2 separate regions of the Homo sapiens genome follow, and region 1 is linked to region 2. Evidence: fine-mapped expression QTL. A gene starts in region 2. The other region holds a variant in brackets. All regions are shown on one strand. Distances are between the middles of the regions.

Region 1 (2,859 bases), 97 kb before region 2:
GACAGTTCTGAGAGTGAAAGGTGCACTATTAGTAAATACGCAGGCATAAACCAGGACGTCATCCTAGTTATAGGTTCCCAGGTCAGCCTGGTTGAGGTTTCTCAGTCTTTCAACGAACCGTATGTGAACTATATAAGTGTGTCAGTAAGTTAAAACGCTGTACATAGAAGAGAAAAATGTGACATGGCTCTTCACCAGGGGCACGAACCAGCAGCAGCTCTAATTGTGCTGGGTCACGTCTGCATCCCAATCTGGCCTCATGGTGAAAGGAAGTGCTTTATCCAAGGGGGGAAAAGTGGAGAATCACAAAAGTCACCACGAGAGCTGCAATATTTTTCAGGGATTCAGGGGATGGGACAACCCCAAGGATTGCTTAATTAATATAAGCCCAGAAAGTCTGAACATCCTATTTTGTAGACCCAGAAAACAATATAATGACCATAAGAAGCTCTTGCTCAACCCTAACCAGTTAGCACTTTATTTGCTTTATTTCAAGAGGAAGGCTTTTACGCCTCCTGGTCTTCTCTTACTCATCCTAGAACTTGAGGAAATACACTCATTCTGACAGCTCTTCTAATTCCAGCTCCAGGCCTAAGGAGCAGCAGAACTTACCGGGGTTTAAAAAAAACAAAAAAAGTCTGAATTTTTCACTCTCTAGATCAATCTAAGAGCAATGCAGTAAGATTTTCCCAGCAAATGTAATTAAATTAAAGGGGACTTGGAACAAAAAATGCCCTTAGGGACCACTATGACCAACTTCTTCCTTGCAGAAGAGGGACTGAAGCCTCAAAGTGAAGAGCTGCACCCAAAAGCATACCCCTAGGACCAGATCCGGCTCCCAGACTGATTCCTTTTAACCATTACTTGGTTAAAATACTATCTCATGCTGTACATCTCTCCAAAGAGAAGAAACGGGGGGTGGGGGAGGAAAGAATGGAAGGGAGGGAGGAAAGGAAAGAAGGGAGGGGAGGGAGGGAGGGAGG[GAGGAAGGA/G]AGGAAGAGCAGGAAGAAGGGAGAAAGAGAAAGAGGGAGAGAAGGAAGAAAGGGAGAAGGGAGGGAAGGAGAAAAGGAAAAAGAAAGAAAGGAAGGAGGGAAGGAAGGAAAGGAGGCATGGGTTGAGCTAGGTCTGGATCTACTCCATTAAAGCTCGATGACAATTTCAAATCGCCAACGTATGGCGATTTGAGGGAGAATAAAGAGACAACCAAAAATGTCTCAGTAAGACCCTGACAAGAAGAGGACAAATGTATCACCTACCTTTGGTCTTGATGGCTGTTTCAATGTTCAAAGCATCCCGCTCAGCATCAAAGTTAGTATAGGCTTTGACAGACCCATATGCACTTGGGGGTGTAGAGTGCTGAGGTTAAAAGATAAACATACTCAAATGACACACATTTAAAATCCTCTTGTTGAAATAACAATGCCTAATATGTTTTCCTATTGTTTCTTTTAACAATTCAGATCATTCTCATACTAGGTAACTAGGTAGGTATTAACACACCATCACACTTCACGCAAGCAATTTCATTTTTTCTAATAAGAATTCTTCAAAGGCTCAGCTAGTTTAGAATATGCTGTCTCAATTTCAACTTCTCATCTTACTTTTAGTGAGAGATCAAAAGTAGACAATGCAAAGCTGGAGACCTGAAGCCAGCATTTACTCAGGATGGCTCTGAAGACCATTAAACTGGGCTGGCAACAATTCGAAATAAGCTGAAAATGTGGAAATGCCTCAAGGACAAGGGTGTTTAGCTAAGTTTCTGCTACAGGTACATGAATTTCTACTGGGCCAGTGTTGCTGAGCTTACAATTCAGATAAATGAGGGAAGCAGCTTCTCCCACCTCTTTACTTTGGTCACCACTGTGGCACCAAGGTGGTCTGGCCAGACGGCCCACATCCTCCTTGTGTTTCCCCCCCTCTCCTCTGTATCCTTCCCTCTGCCTTTATTAATACCATCCCTTGTGCCTACCACCCTCCACTCTTCCTAAGATTTCTTATTGCCTTCTAAACCATACCCTCTTCCTTTCCCAATGCTTTTCTTTTCTTTTCTTTCTTTTCTTAGGTAGGGTCTCACTCTGTTGCCCATGCTGGAATGCAATGGTGTGATCATGGCTCAGTGCAGCCTCAACCTCCTGGGCTCAGATGATCCTCCCACATCAGCCTCCTGAGTATCTGGGATTACAGGCACCTGCCACCACACCGGGCTAATTTTTTCATATTTTTTGTAGAGACAGGATTTCGCCGTGTTGCCCAGGCTGCTCTTGAACTCCTGGGCTCTAGTGATCCTCCCATCTTGGCCTCCCAAAGTGCTGGGATTACAGGCGTGGTGGCTCACGCCCAGCCTTTCAGTGCTTTTCAAAGCTCATTATCCTTCCTGATCTGACAGATGGGAATCTCCCATTCCAGATTGAGGTAAGGACAATGGAGTGCTTCTACGTCAGTTCTCCTTTCAAGGTATTAACTTCCCTCCTTCTTTGAAATGCTCTTATAGTTTTCCCTCTCCCTGCTACCCAGTCCCAAAGCTAAGGGCAGACAAAGAGGATGTACATTGTGGTTGTGGTTGGCTGATGGCTGGTGGAGGCAGCATCACTGCCCATCCTCATCATCAAGGCTCCCATCCTGCAACCCACCCCAACCCCCCCAGCACATAATGCCCGTATAATGTGATGACTTGGCCTTGGCGCAGTTTCTGTGAAGAGTGAAAAGGCCAAGATCCGTGAGTTACTTCTCCACCCACAGGCATCACATTATAAACCACCCAGCACCCACGCCATTCCATTTTATTAGCACTGAGACTGTATAGGTGAGCATCTAAGATGCCTTCCTATATCTAGATGACTCCCAGGAGAGGCCAGAAATC
Region 2 (2,882 bases):
ATTACAAAGTGGCTACAACTCACCAATTCAGTCCTGGTTCACTTATGACCATCTTGGAGCTCATCTTCCTAGATTTCTGCTTCACTCTAGCTCACAGTTCACAGCTGCCTGGCTGCGAAGGCTCCAAGAGGCAGGATCCCTCCAGAACTTACTCAGCTGAGTAAAAACAAAAGGCCAAGATCAAAAGCAAGTGATTGGCTAGGCCAGGTGCTATTAGGTGAGGAAGAATCTCTCCCTAAACATCTACCCTCAACAGACTGTGGCACCTAAAACAGAATACAGCAGACCCAAGGTTCTTTGTAGCAGAGCAGCAATGACGATACAGGACGAGCCCTTTTCCATTTAATCTACGCCGGGAGTGTTACTCTCAGGACACTCACTATGGAAATAAGAGCTGAAACAGAACGGTGTTCTCATTGCTTACATACTAGGCCACTTGATGGCATGGAACGGGAAGTCAACTCAGTTTTCCATTCCCTTACTGCCAAAATAAATCTTTTGTTTTCCCGACCATGCTTTGTTATGGGGCAGATTCTGGCAGGCACTTTATGACAAAAGCTACCTCGATATCAGGAATCTTAGGCCTTTCACAAAGAACCTCACATTTGAGAAGACTTGAGGTCAACTTAAGTGACATTTCACAAGATCACTTACAGACATCATCAGGACTACAAATCAGGCTTGATCTCTCATGTTCAGTACTTCTCCTGTGACCCCAGGCAGACTGATAAAGTGACCTGCGAGAACCTAATCAAATTTAGGAGTCGGTCTCTCGACACCGAACGGGCCCGACCGGCTCCCACTTAATCTACCTCTCACACTTCGACCCAGTGTGGAGCTGGGGGGGAATAGTCGAGGAAGGCAAAAGAAACGGCTGAGGGAAAGGGGACGCAAAGAGAGGGGAAACAAGGTTCCAGAAAAGCAGGTAAAAGGGCAAGCAAAGCAGGGGTAGGAGCCGCGCAGAGCCAGGAGCAAAGGGTCCTGGCCCGGCCGCCATGTTCCCTCCTCCCGCCCCTGCATGAGCACGCCCGCTGGCCCGGCAGCGCCCTCCCGTCCGCGTCTGGGCTGCAACACAGCCTTTCCGCCCACCTCATGGTCCGCGGCGGCTCTTGCCCAGGCCGCAGCCACACACCACACACGCTCCACCCCACTCCTCACATTGTCGCGCGCGCCCAAAAAAGACCATATTTAAAGGATGTGGCCGCGCCGACTCGGCCCTGCGTGATGACGTCTCAGCGACATAGTGGGCGGGGCCTTGCGTCTTGACGGCTGCTCCCCTCCTTTCCTCCCGCCACAAGCGCTCGCTGTGGTTCTGGCAGCGAAGTGCGAGACTGGGCTCGCCAGGCGGAAGTGGTTGGAGACTGCGTGTTTTCCTAGAAAGTCCTCGACCTTCGTCGGGGAGAGGAGGGGAGTGATAAATTGGAAGGCGGACAAGCGACAAGTGCGGTACTGGAAAGACCCAAACATACTTGGTTGTGACCTCAGGCAAGTTTCCTGACTTCCGTAACCCAAACTCCTCATATGTAAAATGGAGATGAAATTGTTACTGCTGCATCATACGGTTTTTTGGAAAGGATTAAATGAAACAAAGGAAGAAGCTGTGCTCTGCACAGTACCTGGCACATAGTAGGGCCTCATTAAGTGCTCCTTCACCTCCGCTCCACTCCCCATCCAGTTTTAGCTGTGAGTTCAAACACTAGTTTTGTTCTCATCCATTACGGAAAGATTTATTGACCGTAAACAGAGTACTTTGTGCTTGGTGCTGGGTACACATGGACTAAGACTGAATACTGATTTTTCCAGTGCTTTGGATCTCTGGCAATCTAAGACATTTACATTAAATACAATAGAAAGTAATAAACTACATAAGAAAGGTGTATAGATTGAGGTTAGAGGGAGAGGAATAGCTAGTGTGAGGGACAAAACGCAGTTTTGAATAGTATTGAGTACTTACATGTCAGTTGCTGCACTGAGCACCTGCCGTGTGAGCTCATTTGAAGAATGTGGGTATGTGGAATGAAGAGAAAGGGCGTTCTAGACAGACCAGCACAAGTGTCAAAAGACAAAAATTTGACACATCTAAAGATCTCAGTTGGCCTTATTGCGATTCTGGAATCAGGCAACACTTCATTCCATAAAATGGAATGAGTGTCCCAATGAGTGGAACAGAGGAGGTTGGCATTACGGACAGAAAAAAGGTCTGTAGAAAGTAGAAACAAAGAACAAAAAGCAGATTGATCATTTCAAAGTTACTTTCCTGGTAAGGTGGAGACAGACAGTACAATAGAAAGATAACTGATTGGTTAACATCAGGTTACTTCAAGTTACTCTTTGCTGTAGGGACTAAAACAGAGGAAATTCATTATCTTGCTGATTGAAAATTGAAACTGGCCTGTTACCTCTGTCTCCTGATTTCTTGGAGGGCCACATAACTCAGTTTCGGTGTGGTGAGCCTGAGTGATACCATTTTTATTTTAGTCTGGTCTCTTGGGGTCTAGTGCAGAAGTTCTAAACAATGGCCTCCTATAATTTTTTTTAATACAAGGAACTGCATAAACTTATTGCATAAACAGAATCTAGTGTGTGCTATTAGGGAAGCATGTTCTACATTTTATTTTAAGACAGAGTCTCCCAGACTGGAGTGCAGTGGTGTGATCTCAGCTCACTGCAACTTCTGCCACCTGGGTTCAAGCGATTCTCCTGCGTCAGTCTCCCTAGTAGCTGGGACTACAAGTGCATGCCACCACACTTGGCTAATTTTTGTATTTTTTTTTTAGTAGAGATGGGGTTTGCCAGGGTGATCTTTAACTCTTGACCTCAAGTGATCTGCCCACCTTGGCCTCCCTAAGTGCTGGGATTACAGGTGTGAGCCACTACCCCTG

The links.
Region 1: its variant is fine-mapped to the expression of ICE2 in whole blood (INTERVAL, PIP above 0.99).

The regions. Positions count from the first base shown.
Region 1 is chr15:60,381,087-60,383,945 of GRCh38, forward strand. It overlaps ANXA2 (annexin A2), which reads right to left. Exons shown (of 13, transcript NM_004039.3): 3 at 1,256-1,355. Among named protein-coding and RNA genes, the nearest start is that of ANXA2, 15 kb to the right of the region's middle. The variant GAGGAAGGA/G (reference allele first, on the strand shown) is at 984.
Region 2 is chr15:60,477,914-60,480,795 of GRCh38, forward strand. It overlaps ICE2 (interactor of little elongation complex ELL subunit 2), which reads right to left and starts at 1,229. Exons shown (of 16, transcript NM_024611.6): 1 at 1,090-1,229; 2 at 24-156. The coding sequence starts at 64. RORA-AS1 (RORA antisense RNA 1) reads left to right here and starts at 1,265. Exons shown (of 6, transcript NR_120342.1): 1 at 1,265-1,485. RefSeq lists enhancers at 61-180, 503-1,030.